Linked DNA regions of Homo sapiens: region 1 is linked to region 2. Evidence: fine-mapped expression QTL. Tissue or cell type: whole blood. Region 2 holds a variant in brackets; the other region holds the start of a gene. All regions are shown on one strand. Distances are between the middles of the regions.

The links. PIP is the estimated chance that this variant, and not a neighbour inherited with it, causes the effect.
Region 1: TEX101 starts here. The variant in region 2 is fine-mapped to the expression of TEX101 in whole blood (TOPMed, PIP above 0.99).

What each region holds. Positions count from the first base shown.
Region 1 is chr19:43,408,937-43,419,266 of GRCh38, reverse strand. It overlaps TEX101 (testis expressed 101), which reads right to left and starts at 4,377. Exons shown (of 6, transcript NM_001130011.3): 1 at 4,229-4,377; 2 at 3,284-3,386; 3 at 3,025-3,168; 4 at 2,712-2,894; 5 at 1,261-1,389; 6 at 670-1,099. The coding sequence starts at 3,347. The coding sequence ends at 870. RefSeq lists a silencer at 5,990-6,176.
Region 2 is chr19:43,297,341-43,307,670 of GRCh38, reverse strand. It overlaps the pseudogene CEACAMP4. Among named protein-coding and RNA genes, the nearest start is that of LINC03078, 29 kb to the left of the region's middle. The variant A/G (reference allele first, on the strand shown) is at 5,264.

The sequences.
Region 1 (10,330 bases), 110 kb before region 2:
CGTTTTCAGGGTCTCCTGAGGGCTGTGTCACACACCACGGTCACTCACATTTGGTTCAGAATAAATCTTTTCAAATATTTTACAGAGTTTGACTCTTTTTGTGGACATAAGTGATCATCCCACTTCAGCCTCCCAAGTAGCTGGGACTACAGGCGAGCGCCACCATGCCAGGCTAATTTTTGGATTATTTTTTTTTGTAGAGATGTAGTCTCATTAGGTTGCCCAGGCTGGTCTCAAACTCCTTGGCTCATGCAATCCTCCCACCTCTGCCTCTCAAAGTGCTGGGATTACAGGTATAAGCCACTACAGCAGGCCCATAACTGGAGAATTTGGAGTCTGATTTTTCTCATTTGGCCATACTTCCTAGGGAAATTTTAGAACCCCAAAACAGCAGCCTTAAGATTGGGCTGGGAGTGTTCTGGAGGAGGCTAATGCTAGTTACTTCTGCTAGCAAGGAGAGCTAGCATATTAGAGTGAAAGGAAAATCAGACTTTACGTCAAAATATGTAAGTTCTTGCCTTGGCTCTGGCCATAGCTAAATGTAAGAAACTCACTGAAATTTTCCAGATCTCAGATTCTCTTTCTGGAGAATGTGTGGTTTGGAGAAGATGAATTTTAAAGGCTCTTTCAGCACTAAAATTCCACTTCTAGTGTTGAAACATACACAAATCACAGCAGAAATGTTTATTAGTAACGCCTACTGCATACAAAAATTATAGCAGAAATTGTATTAAAAATGTCAAATACGTTCATAGTATCTCTGTATTCTCCCTCAAATTCCCATCTACTCCTCAGCTTGTTGAACCTCAACAGTAAGAAGGCTCCCAGTCAAAAAAGATGTCCTCAGACCCAGGCCCAGAAGTGCCTTCTTAGGAAAAGTGAATAAATGATGGCAGCAGCAATGGCAGCAGTAGCTGTAACCCCCAAACAGGAATGGGAAGACAGGTGGCCCCATTTTCAGTCTTTCGAGGTTGAGTGAGCAGCTGATGTGGGCACGCTTCCCTCACAAACATGGGTCCTACTGCTAAGATTCCAGACATCAGCCTGCAGCCAATCATGGCTGTACAGCCTTTGACCTCCACAGACGACTCAATGCCACCTATAGAACAAGGAAGGATCGGGAGAGACAGAGATGTTTTAGGACATCAGAGGAGAATCCAGTCCCCCCTCATCCCTGGAGAGCTCAGTGTCAGAATCTCTGGGGAGCCACTCAAATGGTTTTCCAGCCTCTGAAACTATCAGATGTTCATTTCAGTTTACCTCCAGTGATCTCAAGTTTTCCTTGATAGCATCGAGTTGTACCATTGGGACAGGGAAGAGAAGGAGCACTGAAACAGGTCCCCAAAGCCACACAGGTTGGACAATGGAGGGTTGTTGACACAGTGGAAGCTGGAGGGAAATGAGAGAGACAGTTAAGGGCAGGTCCTGCCTCCAGAGATGTTGCTCCTTGCTGCCTTCTCTTCCCCAAGATTTTCCTGCAGATGCCACTCTAATCAAGGCCCATTACTTCAGCCTCCCCATCCTTCCCCAGCTGGTGTTCTCTGCTGTGAAATCTCCATCGATCTGACTTCCAAACTCTGCTGAGGTGTGAAGATACAGAGATGAAAAGGACATAGTTCCTGTCACCTGGCATCTCTGCCTAGGAGAAAGACATGTAAGTAATCAATTCAGTAGCTGCTGTGTTCAAGGTATAATGACAAAGGAATGGAGGAATACCCAACTACCTAAAAGAATTTGGCAAATATTTTCAAAGAGCTGATACCTGAATTGACATGGAGGATGAACAGGGGTTAGCTATGTGAAAATGGGGTGGGGAGGGTAGTAAAGGAAACAGCAAGGACAAAGGTCAGGTGGTGTGAGCCAGCTTGGTGGATTCAGGGAATTGTGAGAAGTTGCACGACTCATATTCAGCTTGTAGGCCCAGCTGTTTCTTTGATCTGTTTTTTTTGTTTTTGTTTTTGTTTTTTATGGCCAGAATCCATTTTGATTGGCCAGTGCCATCTACATTGTTAAGCATTTTGAGTATTAGCCCCAGTTAGCACACAGTAAATGAGAGAGGGAAGAGAGGGAAATGAAGCTGAAAAGACAGGAAGGGCCAAGTTACTACAGGCCTTGTAAATTGGGGAACTGGGCCGTTCTCGTGCAGCAGTGGGAAACCAATACTTGTTAGACTGATAATACCACCCTGTTCGGAAACCTACACTGATGTCTTATTGCTTTTTTTTTTTTTTTTTTTGATGGAGTCTTGCTCTCTGTCCCAGGCTGAAGTGCAGTGGTGTGATATTGGCTCACTGCAACCTCTGCCTCCTGGGTTCAAGCAATTCTCCTGCCTCAGCTTCCCGAGTATCTGGGATTACAGGTGTGCGCCACCAGGCTAAGCTAATTTTTGTATTTTTAGTAGAGACAGGTTTTCACCATGTTGGCCAAGCTGGTCCCAAACCCCTGACCTCAGGCGATCCACCTCACCCAGCCTGTCTTATTGCTTAATAAACACAAAACCCAGTTTACACTCCAGGCTTCACTGGTATCTCGCTGCTCTGAGCAGTGTTTAGATCCCAATGAACAATTCAGAAACATAAAATTACTTGAACTGTGAGGTACTTTGGGGTATGGACCACTTAGGCTAAGCCAAGTCAGAATGCAAAGGGAGGCCATACACAAGCTCTTTATGGAGTTTCTCTTAGTACCTATCTCCCCCACTTCCAGGGTACCTGTGGTCTCACTGAACTCCCAAAACTGAGACAGGCTGTCTTTGTCATTACAGAAGGAATCCTCACAGTAGTTACTGTAGGAGGTCACGATCAGGCCGGGAGGTGAAGAGTGCTGGACAATTGTTATGGCCTCCTCCCCTTCCGGGATGCAGCCCTTCGTGGCCAAAATGGCTGTCTCAGTCCCTGTTATGAGACAGGAAGGAGGGGAAATGGATGGTGGCCGTCACAATTGGCCTGGACGAAGGGAACAAGCATTGGCATGGAGATAATCAACCTCCCTCCTACCCAGCCCAAATGCCCCATCTCATTTCACCTGCTTTAATTATTAGTATGGTTTCCTGGCAAAGTGCCCCTTTGTCACAAGTCTCCACTTCCTCTGTGGTCCAGTTAAACATATTGGCTGGATCTGCTTCCACAGTCATGGACAGACCCTTTTGACAATACAGCTCTAGGCCCGCTGAGGAGAAAACAAGAAAAGGATAAGCACTTCTCCATGGGCCAAGGCGGCTCCCTTTTCATCATCAGTCCACCTTCTGTGACACACGGCTCTCCCCTATGTCCCCCATACGCACAGGTCAGGAGGGAGGCTCCTAGGACCAGGAGGATCAGCAAATGCTGGATACGAGGGGTTCCCATGGCTTCTTCTGGAGAGGTCTGGGAGGAGCTGGTCTGGATCTGTGAATTTGATGGAGAGAAGGCAATTAACTTTTCAGCCAGAGTGCATGAGATCAAATCTAGGTCCTGGCAAGTACTGACTTCAGGGTGGGGTGTTTTAATCTGCATTTTTTTTTTTTTTGAGACGGAGTCTTGCACTGTCGCCCAGGCTGGAGTGCAGTGGCGCAATCTCGGCTCACTGCCTCTGCCTATCAGGTTCAAGCAATTCTCCTGCCTCAGCCTCCCGAGTAGCCGGGATTACAGGTGCCCGCCACCACACCCAGTGAATTTTTTGTATTTTTAGTAGAGATGACGTTTCACCATGTTGGTCAGGCTGGTCTCGAACTCCTGATCTCAGGTGATCTGCCCGCCTCGTCCCCCCATAGTGCTGGGATTCCAGGAGTGAGCCCTGATGCCCGGCCTCACAGTGGGGTTTATGGTGTATATGACCACGACTTCTAAAGTCGTTCTGTCCCTAACCGGCTTGTGAGCTGGAGCGAGTTCACAGGTTTATCACGCCCCAGTTTTTCATGGTTTTAATTCTCAGGCCCGGCCACCCAGTGCCCTCCAACTTCAGGATCAGGAGTGTGGCCCTGAAGGCCGCTTCTCCCTCAGTCTCAGGGGTCCCTTACATTCTCTCAGGGACCCAGAATCTCGGCCCCCAGCCCCAGCCCCAGCCTCATCAGAACCCGGGATTCTGAGAGCCCAGCCCCGTCCTATGTAGGGATCGAGGAGTCTGGGTTCCAACCACCTTTTCCTGCGGGACACACCATTCTGGTCCCCTCCCTCTCAGGCCCGGGAGCCCAGGCCCCCAACCCTCGTTCCCCTCAGAGCCAGGATCTGGGTCCCCAGCCTTCTCTTTCCTCAGAATCCAGGAATCTGAGTCCCTAGCCTTCTTTTTCTCTTTAAAGAAGCAAAATTGCTGCCGGCTTCCAGGCAGACGCCTCACAAGAATCTCACGACGCCAAAGTTGAGGCCCGGAACGCCTTCTCCCCGGGCTTGGCATTCTCTTACGACGCAAGGCCGGGCCAGCCTGGCCACACAGCACTCGAAACCCCATTGGTGGATGCAAAAGCATCGGATAAGTTCATTGGATGAGCCTGGAGGAACGCGGCACCTCATTGGCCACAGAGAAGTCAATTCCTGGCAATCTCGGAGGGTGCGCATGCTCGGAAGGTGAGTGGCGGGCAAACCGGCCGGAAGATCCTGCCTGTTTTTGCAGCCAGAGGCACGCAATGGAGGGTGGGCAGTGCGTTGCCAGATGGCCTCGCCTGGCCCATTTCTCTTTTTGCACTCTGTTGTCTCTGCTTCTCCAGCCACACTAGGAGGTCAGACCCTTGGCCCTCACTCACGGAACTTATCTCCCTACCCAAATGGCCTCTCATGTTCCCAGCCTGGCCCCTGCCTCGGCACCCACCTTAGTGGCCCTAGCCTCTGGGAGTCAGCTTGGCCTCTTGAGTCTTCACTTGCAGTGGCCCCTGTGCAGCCCAGGCGTCTTCATCTGATTGCGCTATCGCACCAGCCTCCTCATGGTCTCCTGGAGGGTTGAATCTAGGAATGCCCCCCTCAGCATCACTTTGGGCACCCCGAATGCATGCATGAGCAGTAGCTATGATGGCACAGGCTGCTGTCAGATCGAACCCACGCGTCCGTGTCAGGACCATGAAGAAGACATGTCACTCGGATTTGTTGCTCATGGCTGGCAGTTCACTTTCACATCTATGTAACCTTCCCTTCCCTCCCCTCCCCTCCCTTCCCCTCCCCTTCCCTTCCCTTTTTGACAGACTTTTGCTCTTTTTGCCCAGGCTGGAGTGCAATGGCACAATCTTGGCTCCCTGCAACCTCCTCCTCCTGGGTTCAAGTGATTCTCCTACCACAGCCTCCCAGGTAGCTGGGATTACAGGCATAAGCTACCATGCCTGGCTAATTTTTTGTATTTTTTTTTTGGAGACAGAGCCTCTCTCTATCCCCCAGGCTGGAGTGCAGTGACGTGATCTCAGCTCACTGCAACCTCCCTCTCCCAGGTTCAAGCGATTCTCATGCCTCAGTCTCCCCTGAGCAGCTAGGATTACAGGCACCTGCCACCACACCTGGCTAATTTTTGTATTTTTAGTAGAGACGGGGTTTCGCCGTGTTGACCAGGCTGGTCTTGAACTCCTAACCTCAGGTGATCTGCCCACCTCGGCCTCCCAGAGTACTGGGATTACAGACGTGAGCCACCACCCCTGGCCTATGTAAGCTTTCCAGGTGTGACATGAAGTTGTAGCAGGATGAGCTGCAGACAAAACTCCTCAGATACTGGATTAAAGAAGGAAGAGGTTTATTTGGCCGGGAGCCTCAGCAGACTTGCGTCTTAAGAGCCGAGCTCCCTGAAAAATAAATTCTTGGCCTTTTTTTTTTTTTTTGGAGTCTCCCTCTGTTGCCCAGGCTGGAGTGCAGTGGTGCAATCTCGGCTCACTGCAAGCTCTGCCTCCCGACTTCATGCCATTCTCCTGCCTCCGCCTCCCGAGTAGCTGGGACTACAGTCACCCACCACCACACCCGGCTAATTTTTTTGTATTTTTAGTAGAGATGGGGTTTCACTGTGTTAGCCAGGATGGTCTCGATCTCCTGACCTCGTGATCCGCCCGCCCCCCAAAGTGCTGGGATTACAGGCATGAGCCACCACGCCTGGCCAATTCTTGGCCTTTTTAAAGGCTTACAACTTCGAGGGGTCCACATGAAAGGGTCGTGATAAATCGAGCAAGCGTGGGAAACGTGACTGGGGGCTACATGCATCAGGTAACAGAACAGAAAGTTTTGCAATGCTTTTTCATATAATGTCTGGAACTTACAGATAACACAAGTAGTTTAGGTCAGGGGTTGCTGTTATTATTATTACTTTTTTTAACTCCTAGGGCTGGGTGGTGGTGCCAAGGTTGACTGGCTATTTATCTTACTTCTGTTTCTTTCCAACTTTTTGCTTTCTCTCTTTCCTCCTGTCTTGTGAACTAGGCAAGGTCGGGGGAGGAGGGCAGCAGGAGTAGTAGTGGTCTCCTTCCTTAAAGTAAGGCAACGCTTTGTATACTTTCAGAATTGGTACTGATTCTGTAAGTTATAGTATAAATGAGTATTTATTTTTAATAGAGAAAATGCCACAATAAGAAAGGGATTGGTAAAGCTTCAATCCCTTTGTTATCTTTGAACTGTTATCTTTGAATGATCACATGTCAAAGGATCCAGGAAGAATGTGTGCCAGTTTTCAGCCCCCGTCTGTCCCCCGAGGGCTCGTGCTTGGGAAAGCAGTCACCTTGTTGAGTCACTCTCCAGGTGACTTGGTCGCAGAATCCCTCCATCTCACACCTAGAAGAGACCTTGGAAGCCTAAGCACCCTCCACCTCTATTCTTCACCCCATTTCTGCTTCAACAGCTCCAGGGACCTCCTCTTGCTCCGTGACATAGTTTGGATATTTGTCCCCCGCCCAAATCTCATGTTGAAATGTAATTCCCAGTGTTGGAGATGCGACCTGGTGGAAGGTGTTTGGGTTATGGGGGCAGATCCTTCATGACTTGGTGCTGTCCTTGCAATGATGAGTGAGTCCTTGCCAGATCTGGTTGTTTAAGTGTGTGGCACCTCCCCTTCTTACTCTCTCTCGCTCCCCTTCTCTGGCCTGCATCCTTTTGCCATAAGTAAAAGCTCTCTGAGGCCTCCCCAGAAGGAGATGCTGGCACCACGCTTCCTGTACAGCTGCAGAACCTTGAGCCAATCAAACCTCTTTTCTTATAAATTACTTCTAGTCTCAGGTATTTCTTTATAGCAGTGCAAGAACACCCCAATACACAGCCCCTTGAGAAAGGTGGCTTTGCCTTTTTGGTGCAAGAGAGATTGACAGATCTTCCTTAGCCTGAGCCAATTTCTGTTCCTCTCCAAGCTTCAGTGTCCTCATCTAGAAAATGAAGAGGTTAGGCTGGGTGCAGTGGCTCAAGCCCATAATCCCAGCACTTTGGGAGGCCAAGGTGGGTGGTTCACCTGAGGTCAGGAGTTTGAGACCAGCCTGACCTTCACCAACACGGTGAAACCCTGTCTCTGCTAAAAATACAAAAATTAGCCAGGCCTGGTGGCACGCGCCTGTAATCCCAGCTACTTGGGAGGCTGAGGCAGGAGAATCACTTGAACCTGGGAGGCGGAGGTTGCAGTGAGCTGAGACTGCACCATTGCACTCCAGCCTGGGCAACAAGAGCAAAACTTGGTCTTGGTCTCAAAAAAAAAGAAAAAAAAGAAAAAAAAGAAAATGAGGAGGTTAGTCTAGAGCAATGGTTGGCAAATAGTTTATGAATCCATGGAACGTTTGTAAAAAAGAAAAAAGCTCAATGGCTAATATACAGTGAAGGCATCTTTTTATATAAGCACTTGTGACACCACCATTGGTCACTGGATTATTGCAGTACGCCCTGCCCTTGCCCATGTGGCTATTTCCCACCTGGCACCAGAGCGATCTCTTAATTGCAAGCCACACCACATTACTCCTGTTTAAAACTTTCTAATGGGCCAGGCACGGTGGCTCAGGCCTGTAATCCCAGCACTTTGGGAGGCCGAGGTGGTGGATCACCTGAGATCAGGAGTTCGAGACCAGCCTGGCCAACATGGTGAAACCCTGTCTCCACTAAAAATGAAAAAATTAGCTGGGCGTGGTGGTGCGCCCCTGTAATCCCAGCTACTCTGGATGCTGCAGCGAGAGAATCATTTGAACCTGGGAGGTGGAGGCTGCAGTGAGTCAAGATTGTGCTACTGCACTGCAGCCTGGGTGACAGAGCAAGACTCTGTTTCAAAAAAACCAAAACCTTCCAGTGGATTCTCATTTTACCTCAAGTAAGATTCTAGGCTGGGTGCCATGGCTCATGCCTGTAATCCCAACACTTTGGGAGGCTGAGGTGGGAGGATCGCTGGAGCCCAGGAGGTGGAGGTTGCAGTTGCAGTGAGCCGAGATAACGCCACTGTACTCCAGCTTTTGCTCTGGTGACAGAGCAAGACCCTGTCTCAAAAAAAAATTTTTTTTTTGTACTTTATAGTATAATTGGCTATGTGTGTTCATGTGTGACTGTGAGTGCATGCATGTTTGTGTGTGCACATGTCTGTATATATGTATGTCTGTGTGTATCTGTGTGCTGTGTGTGAATGTGTGTCTGATGTGTGTGTCTCGGTGTACATGTCAGTGTGCATGTGTGCATGGGCATGTGTGTATCTGGTTCCTTCCAGCTGTGTCTGATCCATCTCTGTGTACTCAGCATATGATTACAGTGTAGGTAAGTAAACATTTGCTGGATTAAAGAATGTCTCTTAGATCCAGAAATGAGAAACACACAACAGTGAGCCACCACATACCTCAGGCCCTCCGTATTCCATCCTCAGAATTTTTTCCATGCTTCCTGTATTCCTGGGGGAAAATTCCAACCTCCCACACTGGTCTTGGAGACCAGCCCCCATGCCTCACCCTTATCATTCCCTGTCTAATATCTATTCCCAGGACATCCCTAGTCTCTTCCAGCCTCTTTGGCTTTGCTCACACTGGTCCCTCTGCATGGGAGACCTCTCCCTAATCCGCTTCCCCCATGCATTTGTTTACCCCACAAACTCCTAATTGTCCTTCAAAGCCCATTCCTCCAATGCCCACAGCCCTCAGTGAAGCCGGCATAAGCATCGTGCAGCTCCCTTTTTGAGTGCTCCAGTTCTCCTACCAACAGGCCTATGCACACACCCAGTTCCCTCTCAAACCAACAGGCTTTTCCTTCCTACTTGTAAAGGATTGAGATCTTCTGCAAACCTTACAAAACAATGAGTTGTAAGCCTTGAGGTTAAACCACCAGTTTTACTTATTTTTTTTTTGAGACAGGATCTCTCTCAATCTTGTCCAGGCTGGAGTACAGTGGTGCAATCACAGCTCACTGCAGCCTCAAACTCCTGGGCTCAAACAATCCTCCCACTTCAGCCTCTTGGGTGGGAGTACAGGAACATGTCACCATGCCAGCTAATTATTTTACTATTAAACCCCAAGCCACAGAATGTCTTTTTGAAGACTGCTAATTACTAATCATAGAGGAAACACTCGCCTTGCTTACACTCACATTTGTTTCTCCTTTTCTTTTTTTTCCACAGAGATGGAGTCTTGCTCTGTCACCCAGAGCTGGAGTGCAATGGTGCAATCTTGGCTCACTGCAACCTTCGCCTCCCAGGTTCAAGCAATTCTCCTGCTTCAGTCTCTTTTACCTTCTGTTTTGAATTCTATTTTCTTTCTTTCTTTTTTTTTTTTTACTAGTACTTCAACTTTCTTGTGCTTACTGTTTGCATGGTATATCTTTTTCAATACTCACACTTTCAATAATGCTTTTCCCTATATGTAAAATATTTCCCTTGTAGACAGTATATATGGGTATTGCTTTTTTATGCAATTTGACCAATCTGTACCCCTTAATTGAAATGTTTGGCCTGTTAACATTGTTAGGTCTAAAGCTGCCTCCCTACTACTTTAAGTTTGGTCTAATGGTTTCTCCATACATAGTGAACTGTAACCTAACTTGATGTGTAAACAGTCTGTAACCTGCTATAGTAAAAATAGCTGAGTCTCAGCCAATCACAGGTACCCAACTAACTGTTCAAACCTGGTTCAAATAAGGCAAGCACCCAACTGTTAGCAGTCCAGCTATTTCAGTGCCTTCCTTAGTTTCTTCTACATCACTTTCTTCTGCGGTAGATGTTATCCAACCATTTATGGACGGAACACCCTGAAGTTTCTCTGAACCTACTCTGGGTCTGGGGGCTACCTGATTAATGCATCATTCATTACTCAATTAAACTGTGTTAAATTTAACGTGTCTGAAGTTTTTCCTTTAGTCAGCCAATTAATCTAATTATTGATTTGACTGCATGTAAATCTACGCTTCAACTTGTGAGTTGGAAGTAGAATGAGGTCACAGTTTCAGGTAGCACC
Region 2 (10,330 bases):
ATTTGGAGGTGGCATTTTTGGGAGATAATTACAGTAAGACTAAGTCATAAAAGTGGAGGCTTCATGATAGAGTTAATGACCTTATAAATAGAAGAAAACATGGGAGAAGGGTCTCTACCTCTTTCTGTCTCTCCACCCACCTTCAAGCCTGCACCATGTGCAGATACAGCAAGAGAGCAGGAATCTGCAAGGAAGCCCTCACCAGGACTGAATCAGCTGGAACCTTGAACTTGGACTTCCCAGGCTCCAGAACTATGAGAAATAGATTTCTAAATTTTAAGTCACCCAGACTAAGGTGTTTGTTACAGCAGCTGAAGCCCATGAAAACATCATCTGACACACTGTTTTGAATAAAACTCTTCCATTTCTCCATCAAATCACCTGACAGTGCCTGTCCCCAGCAGCACCAGAGACCCCAAGAAAAGAGCTCCAGCAGGGGCTCAACCAGCATGGGTCCCATGGGGCAGCCTCAATGTCAGGCACCAGATGGCAGGTGAGGCTATAGTGATACAACCACAATGTGAAAGTACAAATTTTTTTTTTGCTATTTACAGACTCTGAGGAGCACATGGCACACCTAGAGATAATAGACACAGAGGTCAAGGAGTCCAGGCAGAGAGGAAAGTAGGGACCTGTAGGCCAATGGCTTTAGTGGGTCCAAGGCGTTAGCTGAGGTTTCCAGCAGAAAGCTTTAATGGGTGAGTTTAAAGCAAGCAAACACTGGGGCCAGGTGACCACGCTGTGACTGAGAGGTGGTCACTTTAAATTTCAGGGCAAATTTCACAACCGTCAGTTTAAAGGAAGCAGCTGGGTAGAGGGGGAGCCCAGCACACTAAGCAGGAGAGATGCCTCTAAGATTTTATCTCTGGCCACCAACTGCAGCCATTTGGCCAGGTACAGTATTGGGAACTGTCACGGTGACCAAGCCCTGCCTCTGATATAAAGCAGGTAAACTTACACCTTAATAAATGAATGCCAAGGCAACATGAAATTACGAGCACTGGTGACATCCACGGACACCAACAGTGTGTGGTGTTGAGCCCTAAGGTCAGGGTCCTGCATTCTTGGTCCCCTGGGAGTGAGAAACAAAGATGACTTGTCCCTGCTCCCTCTCTGCTCCTCTGTCATTGATCTTCCTGCCCTGCACCTCCCTCTTCTGCTTCCAAACCTCTGCCCAGTGCTCAGCCCCACCCAGACATCACTGTCCCCAGGGCATACACAGTGCAGCCCACTGCACACAAACACAAACTCACAGGTGACAGAAATCTGTGTTTGGGACATCTGATTGTGATAGAGGGAGGATAGTGAACTTACAGTCACAGAGACTGAGACTCATGGGGCTGGAATGTGATGGATCTGTGACATAGGTGAATAATCTGCTGTGAAATGTGCAGATTCACATGGAATAAAACATGCAGCCTTGCCTGGGGCTGCTGTCATCCAAATTTCCCCCATGTTCACCAGAGGATGGCAGAATCCCAGCCACAAGACTCCCCAGGGGCTGCTGACCCAGCCAAAAGGGCATCTGCAAGGGCAGCGATGGTCCACATGATGCCATATTAGGCACTTTACCCTTGTGACCTCTTTCCATCCTTATCAACTTTTTCTGTGACTGCTCCCTACATTCCCACCCCACTCCCTCTGTACGGTTCTCTAGGTTATCCCAGGCTGATCCCAGTGCTGACACAGAACAGCAGCTGCCTGAGTGCCCACAGTATTCCTAGGAATCAGCCAGGCACCCTATGACCTGCCCATTGCACGCTAGGAGGTGCAGAGGGTGTTTGAAGGTCACGCACAGGCACCATCCATGATGTGGCCACCTGCTGGAGGTTTTTCTACTCACCCACAATCTGCCCCCTGCTGTCTCTCGTGAAGCTGGGAGGGAAGACAGGGCTGTCCTTTGTGCATGGGGAAGGTGAAGTGGGGGGTATGAGCTCCTTTTGTTCTCAGAACATGGCCCACCCCCACACACCCTCTCAGGTGTGAGCAAAGTCCCTTCACGCAGGCTCTCCAGCCACTGCCTGTTCTTCTTCTACACAGAGGAGCTTGATCTGCCTCAATCCCTCAAGAGGAACCCCAAGGGATGTATAGCAAGAAGGGCTAAGCCCATCCTGGCTGCAGAGTAAGTCTGCAGAAATCTCTCCAGCTCTGAGCCCCTGTTCTTTCCCAGTCTCTCTCTCTGGGTCTTGAAGAGCTGTGTTCTGTGGGGACCCTGGGCATCACCCCACTCCCTTTTGCACCAGCCGTGGGGAAGGTGGGGTGACCACAGGACAGTCAGCTGGGCCAAGGACAGAGGACACCAAAGATGGTCAGGAAGAAAATGGATGGGCCTCACCCCAGCTCAGCCACCAGAACCCAGGGACCAAGAGAGTGGCTGAGACCTGTCCCTGGTGAACACTGGGCCCATAGGCCCCACTGACCAATCAGCACAGGCCTTTCCTACCAGGAGGCATAAGAGATTGATCCTGCACACCTCCACGAAGGAAAATACCCTCTTGGACAACCGGGTCATCGAATGTCTAACCATGGAAGCTGTAGCAAAGTTCAACATAATGAAAGAGAGGGAGGGTCCTTCTCACCAGCCAGCACTCAGCCCACCCAAAGCAAGGTGAGGGTGCATCACTGTGACAGGGTCATGGTGCAGCCCAGCCTCCTGCTTTGAAGAGAAAAGCCAGATGGGAATGGGAGAGGGCAGGGGGAGCGACTGTGCACCCTGACCTGGAGCAATGGAAATGGGAGGACACTGAGGGCCCAGGGCTGTGCTTACCAAACCTAAAGGATGTCTGTGTGTGTGTGTGTGTGTGTGTGTGTGTGTGTGTGTGTCTGCACATAGTGTGTGTAGAGGTTGGGTGAGAGAATCACTGCTGAAGGAGGCAGAGGACTCAGCAATTCCCAGGGGCCTGAAACACAGACAGAAGAGAAACAGAAAGGAGGGACAAGGAAGCAGGACTGAGAGGGGAGGGCACAGAGAGGTGTCCTGGGTACAGACCCCACCCATGAGCCTGAGAAGTGCTCCTGCCCCAGGAAGAGGCTCAGCATAGAAGGTGGAAGGACAGCCCAGCTGACAGCCCTGCTCAGAAACTTTCCGGATCCCAGGCTCATCTCCACAGAGGAGGACAAGCAGGCAGCACAGACCATGGTGCCCCCCTATCAGTCCCTTTCTCCAGATGGCACATCCTCTGGCAGAAGCTCATGTTCACAGGTGAGGAGAGAACTTCCTTGAAGAGGAAATGAGAAGGCACAGGGACTGGCTTGGGTCTCCTGGGGAAAATGGGGCTCCTGGGGAAAGAGGACTTAGAGCTTCTACTGCTGCCTTAACAGAAAAGAGGACACCAGAAGGGACAGGATTAAAACAGGAAAATCACATTGAACTGAAATTTATGGTAAGAAGCAAACAAATCTCAAGTGTTCTCTATTCCCGGTTAATCATCACTGGCCACTACATTTTGAAAAATGATCATAATAACTATATCAGATAACACTTCATATAAAAACATAGTGAGGGTATAAGGCATTGTCATCAGCCACCAACTTCAGAAATTGGGAAATAAATCACAGGCCTTGGAGGGCTCTGGGAATGCTCACAAACTCATTCACAAGAGTCCACAGCATGTCCCAGGCACTGCGGTACAACCAAGATCATACAAGTCCCTGCCCTCATGAACCTGATGCTGTTATGGGGAGGGGAGCGAGACACGCAAGGATATCTAGAATGTGAGGTCAGGTGTTGACAAGAGCCCTGGAGAAAACTGAGCAGGGAAAAGTGAGAAAGGGAAGACCCAGAATCTCTAGTGGAGGTGTCAAGAAAGGGCTCTTTCAAGGATGCCCTGATGTGAGCAGGATATGAGGTCAGTGGAAAGGGAACCATGCAGACCCCTGGGGAAGAGGATTCCACACAGGGAAATGCCAAGTTCAGAGGTGTTGAAGGAATGGGGGTCATGCTGCTGACCTTGACCCAGCAGGACACACACACACACACACACACACACACACACACACACACACACACACACACACACATTCTCTCTCTCTCCAAGGCTCATGGGTGAAGAGAACCTCTAAGGACAAAGGGCCCCAACTTTCCATCCCAATACATAGGTTTTGATATTGACTGATGCTCCCTCCCCATCCTAGCCTCACTTTTAACCTTCTGGAACCCACCCACCACTGCCAGAGTCACTACTGAAGCCATGCCATTCAATGCCACAGAGGAGGAGGAGGAGGAGTTTTTTCTACTTGCCCACAATCTGCCCCTGAAAGTGATGGGCTACAATTGGCACAAAGGAAGAAGTGTGGATCTCTACTATTGAATTTTAGGATATGCAACAGGCATTCAAAGATCTAGCTCAGGACCTGCATACAGTAGTCAGGAGGTAATATTTGCCAATGCATCCCTGCTGACCCGGAAAGTCACCCAGGATGACACAGGATTCTATACCCTACAAATCATAAAGACAGATTTTACCATTGAAGAAGCAACTGGATATTTCCGTGTACACCGTGAGGAATTCATGACCTCTGGGTGTTGGGGGTCAGTTCTACTTCACGCACCCACAGGATTGTTAGGCCTGGGCTGTGCCTGTGTCCCCCTCTGCATTATGTCCCATTTTAGTGTTTGGGCATTCAGTGCAGGACACACACAGGGTAGACAAATTTCAATGGATCAGAATTCATTTCCTGCATCCATACTCTGAAGACACGTGCTGCAGAGAAAGGACAATCTGATGGGGGAAACTCAGCAGGAGGAGATCAGTCTCAGCCCATCACCCTGTGCACTTCCCATGAACATGATTCGGAAAAAGACCCTGGAGAACTACATCAGGGCCCGGTTTGAGGGGTCCCCTGGGATCCTTATAGAGAAGCTCAGTCCTAGAAGCCTAGAAGCCCTGGCCCCAGAACCCAGTCCTCAGATCCTGAATCCAAGTGACCCTGGAAAACCTGTGCCAGGGCTGGGTTGTGGCCTCCTGAGCAGGACTGACTGGGAGCAAGTATTGACCAGCTGTATGATGGATGTGGCTCTGGAGCTGCTCCCAGGCAGGGTTCAGCCCCAAGAGCCTCATCTGGTCAAAGACAGAGCCTTCTCTTTCACCTGAGACTCAGAGTGAACAGATGGACAAGCTTCTTAGGCTATCAGCCAACTGCCCTGGGAGGCTTAGGAGACCCCATAGAAAGTTCAGTGTCCCCTGGGACAGAAATAGAAGAGACAAGATGTTCCCGGCAGCAACTTGTCCACAGGGATCAGGTCTGAGGGTGCTCACTCATG[A/G]AGGCAAATAATAAACACTGTTTGTGTGAACACCTCCTCTATGCCAAGCGTTAGGTCAGGTGACTGTGAATAATTTAAAGTTCATTCAGAGTCAACACGACAAGTCACAGACCATTTACCATTTAGCTTATATGATTGAGAGGAAACTGAGCCACAGGGAGACACAGTCACTGAACCAGGGTCACACAAACATGAGGGGCAGATCAGAGTCACACGAGGTCTTTCTGTAACCACACCTCCATCCTCTCCTCCATGAGAAGTGAGGTCTTATTAAGTTCTAAGGAGCCCATGGTCATCTGTCGGCTCAAATCCTTTCTTCTTAGGCATCCAAACCTCAGAGGAGTGAGAGCAAATGGACTACTGATTCGTTTGTACTCCAGAACTAAATCACCTGCCTCAACTGTCAGAGCCAGTAGGAGGAATGTCCAGACCTTTCCCTCAGATCCTAATCCTCCTCATGGAACCTGAAATCCTGTGTTTTCCAAAGAGTCAGTATCATTCCCATGAAAGAATAAAGGAGAGGACTTGGCTTTCTCTCCCCATTCACACTAACACAGGCTCAGTGTGAGATACACACTCTGTAGTTCTCACATGAGGGAAGGAGCCATTGAATGAAGGAATGAATGATTCATAACCTCTTTAGGGACCGGATCCTGGATGCAGAATCCTAGAGGTTTCTGGCCACACCTGTTCCCTATCACTTGGGTGCTGAGACCCATGTTCCTTCCCTCTTACTCCCTGTCCCTAAAGCTACCTCGTCTCATGTGACTCCAGGGTTCCTAGGCCATGGGAGGGCTTTCAGGGATCCCTGGTACTGAACTGAGACCCTGGGGGCCCCTGGTCACTGGGGTCACTGCTCCCTGCCATGGGTGTCTCTGGCTCCCTCTGCTCCTCTGTGTCCCTCATCTTCTGCCCCCGGCTCCACCTTCATTCTAGCTGGCATGCCCTGTCCAGCACATCTTTCTCCATGCTTTGGACTTCCTCAGACAAAAGCTGACTATTCTGCTCCTTTTCTGCTCACACTGTGGCCTGACTGCACCCCCTCCCCACCCCCAAAAAAAACACTGAAATTAGCCAGAGTTGCCACTTCCGCCAGGCTCCATTATGAGCCATTGTCTTCAGGTCACCAGGAGAATGAGCTTTCACTGTATCCTGTTCCAGGGCTCTTTCCTTCTGAGAGGCTGACTCATGGAACAGGCCACCAGATAGAAATGAGTGGTTTCTCCATCCACTCTTATAATTACCTGACAGGAAGACCGACAGGTCCATCCTGCTCCCTGCGCAGGCAAAACTAATTTATGAAGAGGGTGATTTGTAGTAAAGAAAGATTTTAATTAGCCCAAGGCTGCCAAACAGGAGCTTATTTTATTATTACTCAAATCAACCTCCCCAATGGCTAGGGTTGGAGTTTTTCAAAAAGTTTGAGGTCTAAGGAATGGGTCCTGGTGATTGGATGGGAATGAAATCATGCAGGTGGGGGAAATCGTCTCTGTGTGTTTGATCTGCCTCTGACTGGGGGCCACATGACTGGAGGCATTGCTCACGGGTCTGGATGAGGCCAGCTGGTTGCCAGAATGCAAGTCTGAGAAATATCTCAAAAGACCAATCTCATAATCTATAATAGTGATGTTATCTATAGGAGCAATTAAAGAAATCACAAGTCTTGTGACTGCTGGCCACATGACTCCTGAGCAATAATGGATTATAGAAACTATGACTACATTTTAGCAGGATTTTGGTCCCTCCTATAATCCTAATGTTATGGTCTTGTATTACTTTGACAAAGACCATCCTTGAGTAGGAGGGAGTTTATTTTAGTAAGGGGATATTATCATTCTTGCTTCAAAATTACACTGTAAACTAAATTCCTCCCATGGTTAACCTGGCCTATGCCCATGAATGAGCAAGGACAGCCAGCCTCCAGCTAGAGGTAAGATGAAGTCTGCCATACTAGCTCCATCTCGCTGCTGTAATCTTTGCAAAGGTGGTTTCACTCTCTCCACTGACTCACCAGGGGATCAGAGGAAGGACATGTCTACAGTCCCCAATGCCCACAGGCTTATTTTACCCATTTCACTCCAACCTCATCCTGCTGTGGTTGTCACTCAGTTGTAACAAGTAGAAAGATGAATAAACTTAAAAATCAAAAACTCTTTTCGACCGCTCAGAGAAGCAAGGTCTCAGAGCCAACTCCCCCATAAATTGGAGAGACCCACAGGTAAATACAGAGCAGCACGTCTTACCTGAGCAGAAACCCAGGCCCAGAAACTCAGTGGGGTGTCTTTTGCATCCTAGCCACCGGCTGACCTTATCCAGACACAGTCAAAAACCCTGAACTGTAACTGATGAATTGCTGAAGGCTCAATGTGGACAAGGCACAGAGTTAAACACTCCAGCAGATGGATCAGGTATGGGATTAGGAGGACAATTTTATGGCTCTCACTTCCTGGAACTATACCAGGTTTTCACAGTGAATATTCAATAAAATTCCCCTCATCTTTCTTGTGGGGGATGGGGAGGAACCACTTAGATGGCAGTGAATTCAATTCTTCCTGGCAAGACCTGTATTCATAAAGATTGTTTTACCATAGCCGAATCAGCTGGGGTTTGATGGAAGCTTAACTGGCCTGGTGAAGGGAAAATGTCCAACTCCAGCCCCCTCTAGCCATCATATCCCACCTAAGGAGGAGAAAATACTGAGAGGCAGTTGTGACATTCACAACCCAGGGAACAGACCTCATTCAGGACCACAGAACTCCTCCCTCCCCACATTCACCACTATATCATTGAAGGCCGGCTCACCCAAGTTCCTTTTACCCAGTACATCATGTCTGGCTTTCAAAAAAAAAAAAAAAACAGAAAAAAGTACAAGACAGGCTATGGCAAAAAAAAAAAAAATGTGGTTTGAAAGAGCAAGGATCAGAACCAGACACAGATATGGCAGAGATGTTGAAATTATCAGACTGAAAATTTAAAGCAACTCTGGTTACCAGTTATGAAGGAAAAAGTAGACACCATGCAGGAAAAGATGGGTGATGTAGGCAGAGAGATGGATATTCTAAGAAAGAACTTTAAACAATGCTATAAAAAAAAGTCTATAAATGAAGAAGCCTGGTAGCCTGGGCACAACTGAGGAACAAATATCTAGCTTGAGGGTGTGTCAACAGAAACTTCTAAAACGGAAACAGCAAAGTTTAAAAAGAATGCGAAAAAAGTGGAACAACTTATCCAGCTTTCTTTCCAATATTTTGTATTGACAATAGCATATTTTATATTTTGGAGTTGTGGGACCACTTCAAAGTCTGTAACATACACATAATGAGAATAGTAGTGGTTCCTGGGACAGGATGGAGCTGGCCAGGTGGGTGCTGTCTGATGGGTTTGCTGCCAGTTTTACACACACCTGTGTCCTCATGATGACACCATTGTCGAAAGGTGGGGTCCTTCAGGTGGGGAGATGCATGAGGCACTGGCGTCTCCCTTAGACTCTGCCCAATTTAAACAAATGTAATCAAACTCTAGTGTTTCTTGAGATCAAGAGAAAATGATGAAAGCATTTCACATGCCTCTTTTGGGCTCCTCCCCTTTTTGCCTAACTGCACAGAAATTAGAAGCAGGGAGCTCTTTCTAAATTCACTAACATAACACACATCACTTCTCTTAATTTGGCGTCATTCCTCACTTTATGTAATTGACACACCTAAGACTTTCTCTCTGATCAATCCTGTCCTCCCAACAGAATGCACATGCCTCCCACTACCCAGGGAGTTGCTAATTCCAAACCATCTTCAGCACCTTTCTTTGAGCATAATGTGATCCAACTGGAATTCAGAGCAGACCTAAACCTTTTTATGTTATCAAGATGAATACTACTTCCAGCAATCGATCTTAGATCTTTGGGCCGTTAATAACAGTGTCCACTTATAGAAAAAAAATGTTTCCTGCAAATTTTCATTTTACTATTGTCAGAACATGACATGAAGTCCAAACTCATGATGAATTTTTAAATGCAAATGTTAGTAGTAAACATTGAGCATCCCAAATCTAAAAATCCAAAGTCTGAAATGCCCTAAAATCCAACGATTTTGACCCCTGATGTGATGCTTAAAAGAAATGTTCACTGGAACATTTGGATTTTGAATTATTAAAATATGAAATGCTAAACCAGTAAGTATACTGCAAATATTCCAAAATCAAAAAAAGTAGGACATCCAAAACACTTTTGGTCCTAAGTCTTATGCATAAGAAATACTCAATCTGTATGAAGTATAGGCACCAAGCTGTACAGTAGACCTCTAGAACTTTCTCATTCTGCATCACAGAAACTGCAGACCCACTGAACAACTCCCTATTCCCCCCACTGTTTTTGATATGTAGTTCTTCTGAAATATTCTGAATATAATATTTTGAAAATTAATCCCTTATCAGATGTATAATTTGCAAATAGTTTTCCATCTCATGGGTTGCCTTTTCACATTCTCGATAATGTTGTCCTTCTTCATTAATAGGCTACATCAACAACTCACTAATCCAGTTGAGAAACAGAAGCTAAATGGAAAAGCCACCTTATTTGATATGTTAAATTATATAAAAAGCATTTTCAAATGATAAGTGATAAGTGATGCTAAACCTTCTCTAAGTTTTATTTATGGGTATGTTACTGATGTGAGTGTCCCCAAAATTATGAGATTCCTAGAAACTGAATATGTTATTATAATAATCATGTCATATTCCACAGAAGTTAGTCAGAATGTAATATGCCACAGAAGTAACTAAATTTCTATGTGAGCTGTCTTTATCATTTATTCCTTCTCTTCTTTTTTTTTCCATGACAGCTGCTTCAGGACAAGAAAGTTCTTTTGGTCTCTCAGTTGGGGCCACTGTCAGCATCATGATTGGAGTACTGGCTGGAGTTACTGTCTTTATTATACCAAACTCTTATCAGAGTTTTAACAACAGTCATTTTACATGTTGGTGATTCACAGATAGTTGTTTTGATTCTTCCTGAAAGCATCTGCAATCAGCTACAGTCCAAAATTGCTTCTATTTCAAAAGATTTATGGAAAA